Regions from separate parts of the Homo sapiens genome. Here region 2 is linked to region 1. The links come from fine-mapping of genetic effects on gene expression. Tissue or cell type: whole blood. Region 1 holds a variant in brackets; the other region holds the start of a gene. All regions are shown on one strand. Distances are between the middles of the regions. Region 1 overlaps STARD9 (StAR related lipid transfer domain containing 9). Region 2 holds the start of STARD9 (StAR related lipid transfer domain containing 9).

Region 1 (5,375 bases):
ATAGTGTCAAAAGAACAAATGTGGCCAGGCGCGGTGGCCCACGCCTGTAATCCTAGTATTTTGGGAGGCCGAGGTGGGTGGATCATGAGGTCAGGAGTTCAAGACCAGCGTGACCAACATGGTGAAACCCTGTCTCTACTAAAAATACAAAAAAAAAAAAAAAATCAGCCAGGCATGGTGGCTGGCGCCTATAATCTCAGCTACTTGGGAGGCTGAGGCAGGAGAATTGCTTGAACCCTGGAGGCGGAGGCTGCAGTGGGCAGGGATTGTGCCACTGCACTCCAGCCTGGGTGAACAGTGCAAGACTCCATCTAAAAAAAAAAAAAACAAACAAAACAAAAAAAACAAATGTACGAGTCACTGGCATTCAAGAGGGAGTGCAGAATGAGAACGGAGGGGAGTAGAAAGTTTATTCAAAGCAATAATAACAGGGAACTTTCCAAACCTAGAGAAAGATATAAATATTGAGGTATGGAAAGGTAAAAAGTTCCCAATTAAATTTAATGAAATAAGACTACTCCACGGCATATAATAATCAAATTCTCAAAGGTCAAGGACAAAGAAAAGGTCATTAAACCAGCAAGAGAAGAGAAGCAAATAGGCTAGGTGTGGTGGCTTATGCTTGTAATCCCAACACTTTAGGAGACTATGGTAGGAGGATTGCTTGAGGCCAGAAGTTCAAGACCAGCCTGGGCAACATAGTGAGACTCCCATTTCTACAAAACACTTAAATTAAACTGTAATTTTTAAAAAAGAAAACAAGCAAATAACAAGTAAAGGAGCTCCAATAGGTCTGGCAGCAGACTTCTCGGCAAAAACCTTACAGGCTAGGAGGGAGTGGGATGACAGTCAAAGTGCTGAAGGAAAAAAACATCAACCAAGAATACTTCATCCAGTAAAACTATCCTTCAGACATGAAGAAGAGAGGAAAGACTTTCCCAGACAAATGAAAATTGGGGAAATTCATCAACACCAGACCTGTCTTATATAACAACTGCTAAAGGCACTTCTTCAATCTGAAAGAAAAGGATGCTAATGTGTAACAAGCAAACATCTGAAGGTATAAAACTCACTGGTAAAACTAAGTACACAGACAAATTTAGAAAACTCTAATATTATAACTGTGATAGATAGACAACTCCTATCTTTGCTATGAAGAATAAAAGACAAAACTATTAAAAATAATAACAACAGGCCGGGCGCGGTGGCTCATGCCTGTAATCCCAATACTTTGGGAGGCCGAGGTGGGCAGATCATGAGGTCAGGAGTTGGAGACCAGCCTGGCCAACATAGCGAAACCCCGTCTCTACTAAAAATACAAAAATTAGCCAGGCATGGTGGTGCGCGCCTGTAATCCCAGCTGCTCAGGAGGCTGAGGCAGGAGAATCATTTGAACCCGGGAGGCAGAGGTTGCAGTGAACTGAGATTGTGCCACTGCACTCCAGCTTGGGCGACAGAGCAAGACTCTGACTAAAAAAACAAACAAACAAAAAATTTTAATCGTCTTTGTTCTATAACTGGGAAGATAAACTAGTAACTGACATTATCAGTGTGGAGTCTGCTGAAAGGGCTGGTTTCTGTTTAGCCCTTAGGGAAGAATGCCTAATATCTGTTAGCGAGGAAGGGGATATAAGCAGGTGTGTCCAACCTCCCATCAGGTCATGGTCATGCATTCAGCTTTTTTTTTTTTTTTTTTTTTTTTGAGTCAGAGTCTCACACTGTCACCTGCACTGGAGTGCAATGATGATCTCGGGTCACTGCAACCTCCACCCTCCCGGGTTCAAGCAATTCTCCTGCCTCAGCCTCCCAGGAAGCTAGGATTACAGGTGCATGCTGCCACGCCTGGCTAATTTTTTGTATTTTTAGTAGAGATGGGGTTTCACTATGTTGGCCAGGCTGGTCTCGAACTCCTGACTTTGTGATCAGCCTGCCTCAGCCTCCCAAAGTGCTGGGATTACAGGCGTGAGCCACCGTGCCTGGCCAGGGCATTTATTTCAACATCTTCTGTTGGTCATGCACTCAACTTTTAAGGTTTCTCTGGGGTCTCCCTGGCTGAGAGGAGGTCTGTTCAGTCAGTTGGAGGCTTAGAATTTTACTTTTATTTATCAATCAACATACAAAAATCAGTAGTGTTTCTATAGACCAAAAGCAAACTATCTGAAAAGGAAAGCAAGAACACAATCCCATTTACAATAGCTACAAAAAAATAAAGTCCCTAGGAATAAATTTAACCAAAGAGGTGAAAGATCTCTACAACGAAAACCGTAAAACACGGATGAAAGAAATTAAAGATGACATGAATCAGTGGAAATATATCCCATGTTCATGGATTGGAAGAATATTGTTAAAATGTCCATATCACCCAAAGCAATCTACAGATTCAATGCAAGCTCTATCAAAATACGAATAACATTCTTCATAGAAAAAATAATCCTAAAATTCATATGGACCCACAAAAGACCCCAAACAGCCAAAGAAATTCTGAGCAAAACAAAGCTGGAGGCATCACAGTACCTGACTTCAAAAAATACTACCAAGCTATAGTAATCAAAACAGCATGGTACTGGCATAAAAACTGACACACAGACTAAAGGAACAGAACAAAGAACACAGAAATCCACACATT[C/T]ATAGCCAACTGATTTTTGACAAACACACTAAGAACACACAAGGGAGAAAGCACAATCTCTGTGATAAATGATGCTGAGAAAACTGGATATCCACATACAGAAGCAAGAAACTAGACCCCTATCTCTTACCATATACAAAAAGGATCAAAAACTTAAATCTTACACCAGAAAATATGAAACTACAAGAAGACAACATAGGAGAAATGCTTTATGACATTGGACTGGGAAAGGAATTTTTGGACAAGACCTCAAGAGCACAAGTAACAAAAGCAAAAATAGACAAATGAGGTTACATCGAACTAAAAAGATTCTGCACAGCTAAGGAAAAAAGAGTGAAGAGACACCCCACAGAATGGGAGAATGGATTTGCAAACTATGCATATGACAAAGGTTAATATCCAGAATACATAAGGAATTCAAATAATAGCAAAAAATCCCAAAGAATTCAACTTTAAAATGGGCAAAAACCTGATTTCACATTTCTCAAAAAAAGACATTCAAATGGCCAACAGGTATATGAAAAAAATGCTCAACATCACTAGTTTTTAGGGAAATCCAAATCAAAACTACAATGAAATATCACTTCGCTCCATCTAAATGACTATAATAAAAAGACAAAAAACAACAAATGCTGGTAAGGATGTCGACAAAGGGGAACTCTTATACACTGCTGGTAGAAATGTAAATTAATACCGCCATTATGGCAAACAGTATGAAGGTTTCTCAAAAAACTAAAGCAGAACTACCATATGATCCAGCAATTCCACCACTAGGTATATAGCCAGTGAAAATGAAATCAGTATGTCAAAGAGATATCTACACTCCCATATTTATTGCAGCACTACTCACAATAACCAAGAGATGAAATCAACCTAAATGTTTACAGATGAATGGGCAAAGAAAATGTGGCATATATACACAATGGAATACTATTCAGCCATAAAACAGAATAAAATTCTGTCATTTGTGGCAACATGGGTGAACCCAGGGACATTATACTAAGTGGAAGACACCAGGCATAGACAGCCAACCACCACGTGATCTTACTCATATGCGGAATCTAAAAAAGTTGATCTCACACGCCTGTAACCCCAACGCTTTGAGAGGCCGAGGCAGGTGGATCACCTGAGGTCGGGAGTTTGAGACCAGCCTAGCTAACATGGTGAAAACCCGTCTCTCCTAAAAATACAAAAATTAGTTGGGTGTGGTGGTGGGCGCTTGTAATTCTAGCTACTTGGGAAGCTGAGGCATGAGAATCGCTTGAACCCGGGAGACGGAGGTTGCAGTGAGCCAAGTTTGCACCATTGCACTCCAGCTTGGGCAACAGAGTGAGATTCTGCCTCAAAAATAAATAAATAATGAAAATAAAAAAGTTAGCCAGGCACGGTGGCTCACGTCTGTAATCCCAGCATTTTGGGAGGCCAAGGCGGGCAGATCACGAGGTCAGGAAATCGAGACCATCCTGGCTAACATGGTGAAACCCCATCTCTACTAAAAACACAAAAAATTAGCTGGGCGTGGTGGCGGGCACCTGTAGTCCCAGCTACTCAGGAGGCTGAGGCAGGAGAATGGCGTGAACCCGGGAGGCGGAGCTTGCAGTGAGCCGAGATTGAGCCACTGCACTCCAGCCTGGCGACAGAGCAAGACTCCATCTCAAAAAAAAAAAAAAAAAAAAGAAAAGAAAAAAGTTGATCTCATAGAAGAAGAAAGCAGAATAGTGGTTACCAGAGGCTGGGGAGGGGATCAGGAAGAGGGAATGGGGAGTGGATGGTCAACAGGTACAAAGTTAGAAAGGAAGAATAAGTTCTGGTGTTCTATTACACAATAGGGTGACTATAGCTAATAACAATATAATGTATATTTCAAGTTGGCTAGAAAGGGTTTTATGTTATCACCACAAAGAAATGATAAATGTTTAAAGTGATGGATGTGCTAATTGCCTGATTTGATCATTATGCAATGCATATGTGGATTGAAACATCACAGTGTACCTCATAAATATTTACATTATGTGTCAATTATAATAAAATAAGACAATTTTTTTTAATAAACAAGAAAGAATACTCTGGTAAACTCAGAAAGAGAAGAGCAATGAGGGTAGTGGTGGACTAACACTACCGCAGGGTAGAATCTATTCTAAGCCTTGGTATAAGGAAAGGGGACCCCTTAAACTGGTGAGGCAAAGATAAACTGTCTAACAAGCATTACAGGGACAACTAGATAGCCATCTGGAAAGAACACAATCGGATCCATACCTCATATGAAAATGACTCCAAAAGGAACAAAGATTTAAATATGAAAAATAAAACCACAGAAGTTCTAGAAGAAACCATGGAAGAAATTCTTTATAATTGTGGATTGAAGAATGTGTTTCTAGTTATTATTTATAACCTAGATACCATAAAAGGAAAACGGACAAATATATCTGCTTGCATGGCCTCAAACAAAATAAGCAAAGTCAAAAGAGAAGGAAGCACTGGGAAAAAAATATTTCTAGTTCGTATCAGTCAAACGGCTATTCTTACTAAAATATAAAGAACTCTCCAAATTGGTAAGAGAAAAAGAGAAAAGAGCAAAGGATATGAACAGATGGCTCATGAAAAACAAAATACAAATATTCAAGCATATGAGAAAAATGAGATACAATTTTCAACACAAAATCTAAACATTTGATAACATGTTGGTGAGAGTGTGGGAAAAGGTAAACTCTCAGCTATTATTGGTGGGAGTATAAATTAGCTCATCTGT
Region 2 (5,375 bases), 130 kb after region 1:
GTGAGCTGAGATCGCGCCATTGCACTCCAGCCTGGGTGACAGAGTGAGACTCCATCTCCAAAAGAAAAAAAAAAAAAAAATTGAGCGTCAACTCTAGTCCTACTGAATAAATAGGCACTTGAGACACAAATGCAACTTTTCTGTAATCTCAGAAAGAGCAGTAGGTCTAATGAATCAAATCTTGGCTCTTACTACTTTTAGAACTTAAGCCAAACCATTCTGTCATCTGGAAAAACAAAAAATAGAAGCTTGGGCCAGATCATCTGTAAGATTTCTTCCCAAGCACAACATCAGATCCAATGACTGTCAACTGAGTGTGTGCCAATGACTTATTTGAAGGTTGGAACAAACCACATAATCACCAGATTCCCCACATTCAGATAAGCCTCAATGAAGACAGTATAACACCCCCTGAAGAACAGCTGCCATCTCTGCAGGATTCTGTGAGAAGAGGGAAGTGATCCGGACCTCTTGGCTGGGGCCACACTGGGTTTATCTGTATCTGCTCCTGAATCTTCAGCCTGCTACAATCTGTTCACACCTGGGTATCTACAGTCTTGACATCCTACCACTTGCTGCTCAAGGCTCTTAACTTGAGCTGAAAGTAAATAAATTGTGCTTTCATTTTCCCTTCACTTTTGTTTGGTATGTTATTCTCTACTGTGGCTGCAAGTAAACCAATTTCAGCATCATTTTCTTAATCTAATTCATGCTATTATAAATTCCTAGTGTCCGGCTGGGCGCAGTGGCTCACGCCTCTAATCCTAGCACTTTGGGAGGCCCAGGCGGGCAGATCACGAGGTCAGGAGATCGAGACCATCCTGGCTAACACAGTGAAACCCCATCTCTACTAAAAATACAAAAAATTAGCCGGGCATGGTGGCGGGTGCCTGTAGTCCCAGCTGCTGGGGAGGCTGAGGCAGGAGAATGGCGTGAACCCGGGAGGCGGAGCTTGCAGTGAGCCGAGATCGCGCCACTCAACGCCAGCCTGGGCGACAGAGCGAGACTCCATCTCAAAAAAAAAAAGAAAAAAGAAAGAAATTCCTAGTGTCCAAGGAACTGAGAAGTTACTGAATGTTAGGAGTGGTCAATACTGTTATCCTGAGAACCCTAAAAGAACAGTTTCACAAATACAGAATATACCAGAGACTACCTCCAGCATAGCATCTGCACTTATAAAACCCCCCCCAGCCCTGAGCTACCACATCCAGTTATGAAGAAGCCAGGTGTCACAAGCCATTTACCAATCAAAACGCAGCAGGTCAGGCATCTGCTTTCCCTCTTTCTTCAGTGTACCTCTTTTGCCTTCTTCCTATTCTCTTTAACTTTTTGTTTCTTTCTATCTCATTGCTCTTCTCATTAGTCTGTCAATTACAAGACTTTTCAAAGCCAATCATTTCTATATGAGGACGAACATAATCCACACTAGTACCCAATTTTATTATGGGAGACGATACCTTTCTTGATCCTTCTGCCCAATTATCAAGCTATCTTATGTCCCAGAGATTTTTAAACTTGCCAAATAATTCCAACATGTGCCTCCTGGTCCCCAAAGCACCCTCTGCCAGATTTACCTTCCACCACTCACTTCCCTCCACACCAACCACCCTTTCCCCACCAAAACTTAACCTCTAGTTAGTCCCTTACAGTCTAAGTCCTTTGCTCTTGGCGGTCTTACTACATAGAAGGCTCTTTAAACTCTCTCCACCTGTCAACAAACTCTAATTGATCTTTAAAAAACACTTCATCTGGTGACAAAGAGAAAAAAGTTCGTGGCTGCACACTGGATGTCTCAAGGGCTGAGATGAGAGGTGCGGAATCAAAATAAGCCACGAGAAAACGGGCACTGAGGGCTCTGAGAGAAAGAAGGGGTTGGAACAACTTCCCCTACTTAACAGTTCCGTCCTGGATTAAATCAGCTGTCGAGCATAGAAAGAAACCGCGACCTGTGTCGGCCTCAATTTCCCCCTCACGCCCTCACCTTCTGCTTTCTCCACATCTTCGCAGAGAAGCCCACGCGCACCCAGAAACACACACCATTCAGCCTCAGTCCTCATGGGTACTCCCAAGCCCCCAGAAAGAGAGAGGAGAATGCTCATCCCTCTCCCAGCCTTTCTCAAAGGCCCAACCCGATGCAGCAAGCCTCGAGCCGCCGTCCCTCGAAACTCCTGCTGGCAGGACGCCAGCGACGCTCACCCAGGGCAGCCCTCCCGCGGCCGTCCGGGAACCGCTATCCCCAGGACACAACGCGAAAGCTCGACTGAGGTCCCGTCCCGCCAGGCCTCCGTGGATTCCGGACCCCGACCCCCCGGGTCACTTTGTCACCGATTTCTGCGCGCCAGAATCTCTGCAGGGGGAGACGCGGACCTCCCGCTCTTTTCAGCTCCTGTGAAGCCTCAGGCGCCCTCTCCCGCGGAGACTCACCTCTTGCTGAGCGGCCGGACCCGCACGGCGACCTGCACGTTCGCCATCCGTCTGCCACAACCCAAGTCCAGCGGGTCAGCTCAGCGGCAGCATCCCAGGCCCCCGCCCTAAGCCCAGACACAGCCCCAACCCAGCCCCGCCCGCCCCACGCGCCTCTGGGGACGCCGCCGCGCGGACGCGAGCTGCCGCCCGAGCGGGGCGGTGCCTGCCTAGCTTCGGCCAATCCTGAGCCCGGTGGGCGGGAGAACTCCCGGCCCCGCCTCCCCTCAATCCTCCTTAAAGCCTCCTGACTCGCCCCCGCCCAAACACGCGCCGCAGCCAGAGCAGGCGGGCCCGTGTGGACGTTCGGCCAGTCCTTAGCCTGGTGGGCGGGAGGATGCCAGGGCTCGCTCCGCCTCGTTCCATCCGAAGCCTCCCGGGTCGCCCCCGCCCAAACACGCGCTGCATCCCGAGCTGGGTGGTGCCCGCCGAGCCTTGGCTAGTCGGTGGGCGGGAGGACGCCCGGGCTCGCCCCGCCTCGCTCCGCCCTACAGCCTCTTGGGACGCCCCCACCCATGCGCGTGCCGCACCGGGCCCAGCAGTGCCGGCCCAGCTTCAGCCAATCCTGAGCCGAGTGGGCCGCGAGGACTCAGTGCTAAGTCTGTTGTTCCTGGCCCCGCTTACCCAGAAATAGTTTTTGTTCCTCGACTAGGTGTCCGTGCTATGTAAAGTCAAGTAAATCAACTTTTGGTCCGAAAGTTTGCAAAGTAATTTGCTAAATACTTTTATTCTCTGCGTTCGCTTGAACTGTCAATTCTGTGGTTAAATTTTCGAGGCAGGCCGGGTGCAGTGGCTCACGTCTGTAATCCCAGCACTTTGGGAGGCTGAAGCGAGATCACCTGAGGTCAGGGGTTCGAGTTCAGCCTGACCAACCTGGTGAAACCCCGTCTGTACTCAAAATACGAAAATTAGCCGGGCCTGTTGGCGTGCGCCTGTAATTCCAGCTACCCGGGAGGCTGAGGCAGGAGAATTACTTGAACCCTGGAGGCGGAGGCTGCAGTGAGCCTGGATCGCGCCACTGTACTTCAGCCTGGGCGACAGAGCAAAACCCTGTCTAAAAAAAATAAAATAAAAAAATAGAAGGCAGTCCCTTACTGGCAAGGTACTTCCTGACATCAGGGACAAAGCATAGATGGAACCAATTCAGATAAAGGGTTATTGTCCAGGTCTTCTTGTACAACCAAAAGACAGGTGGCTGGTGTTTATCTTTTCCCTTCAAGGCTTGAGGGTTAGCAGCCATATAGATAAGGGCAGTGCTGATCATAAACCCAACTGCATTTGCACAAAATATTAGCGTATCCCTTCCTGCCTTAAATCCTGGTGCTTGCTTCTCTTCCTTACTAATAAATGTCCTTTGTGGCATTTATTTTTCCAGAATAGGGAACTTGCATATGCACCGAAAAGCTGTTCAGGCAGATACCCTTTCTTCTCAATTATTTCCTTAATGGTGTCTAGGAACTCATTTGCTCCCTCTTGGTCAGCAGAAGCTGCTTCTCTTGTTATCTTGACATATTTTAAACCAAACCTTTCCAAATTTATCAAATCATCCCTTACTGGCATAAAATTGTTTGGATCCTTCACCTTCCTTTTGCTTCAAGTTGTCATATAATGACTTTGCTTGTTCTCAAATCATATTAAGAGTATATAGGTATATAGATAGGTATGTTTTCCTTTTTTTTTTTTTTTTTTTTTTTTTTTTTTTTGAGATGTTGTCTCACTCTGTCGCCCAGGCTGGAGTGCAGTGGCGCGATCTTGGCTTACTGCAACCTTCAACTCTCTGGTTCAAGCAATTCCCCTGCCTCAGCCTCCCGAGTAGCTGGGATTACAGGCGTGTGCCACCACACCCAGCTAATTTTTTTGTATTTTTAGTAGAGACGGGGTTTCACCATGTTGGCCAGAATGGTCTTGAACTCCTGACTTCAGGCAATCTGACCACCTCTGCTTCCCAAAGTGTTGGGATTACAGGTGTGAGCCACCACGCTGGCCAGGTATGTTTTTCTTACAGCAATCCTGTACCCACATAAAAGCTTCATTTTCTGTTTGTTGTTGTTGTTGTGTGTTTTTGGTTGTTTTGTTGTTGTTGTTGTTGTTTGAGACAGAGTCTTGCTCTGTTGCCCAGACTGGGGTGCAGTGGCACTATCTCAGCTCACTGCAACCTCTGCCTCCTGGGTTCAAGCGATTCTTCTGCCTCAGCCTCCCGAGTAGCTGGGATTACAGCTGTGCACCACCATGCCTGGTTAATTTTTGTATTTTCAGTGGAGATGGGGTTTCACCATGTTGGCCAGGCTGGTCTCAAACTCCTGACCTCAGGTGATCTGCCCACCTCGGCTTCCCAGAGTGCTGGGATTACAGGCATGAGTCACTGCACCTTGCCAAAAGCTGCATTTTCAATATGAGATAAAAAGACATTTCAGGGCCGGGCACAGTGGCTCACGCCTGTAATCCCAGCACTTTGGGAGGCCAAGGTAGGAGTATTGCTTGAGCCTAGTAGTTTGAGACCAGCCTGGGCAAAATGGTGAGACCTCATCTCTACACAAATTAAAAAATAAAAATAAACTATAAAAAGGTATTTCACAAAAAGCTCAAGGTTTTTGTGCCTCCTGGTGTAGCTGTGGTCATGGCTGCACAATTTTTTTAAATTTTACAATGGTCCTTACAATGGATTCATTTATCATGAAATGGTAGGCAACCACAGCTGCAGATCTATAGTACATATCAAGCAATTCAGCTTTTTCTTGTAATGTCATGACTTTTCTCTGCTTCTTGGGAGCACTTCCAGCATCACTAGTGGCACTTGGTACTGGTCCCCTGATGTTATTCAAGGCTTATGATATTGCACTGAATACGGTGAAAAACACCCAAGAACCTCAAGAGATCACTTTTTATTGTGATACACAGTTTACTGAAGAGAG

What was found. PIP is the estimated chance that this variant, and not a neighbour inherited with it, causes the effect. A credible set is the group of variants that fine-mapping cannot tell apart.
Region 2: STARD9 starts here. The variant in region 1 is the best candidate, but not a certain one, in a credible set for the expression of STARD9 in whole blood (INTERVAL, PIP 0.69).

The regions. Positions count from the first base shown.
Region 1 is chr15:42,698,320-42,703,694 of GRCh38, reverse strand. The region is part of intron 26 of STARD9 (StAR related lipid transfer domain containing 9); the gene reads right to left. Among named protein-coding and RNA genes, the nearest start is that of CDAN1, 36 kb to the left of the region's middle. The variant C/T (reference allele first, on the strand shown) is at 2,627.
Region 2 is chr15:42,572,812-42,578,186 of GRCh38, reverse strand. STARD9 (StAR related lipid transfer domain containing 9) reads right to left here and starts at 2,581. Exons shown (of 33, transcript NM_020759.3): 1 at 2,425-2,581. The coding sequence starts at 2,471. RefSeq lists silencers at 404-463, 2,444-3,073.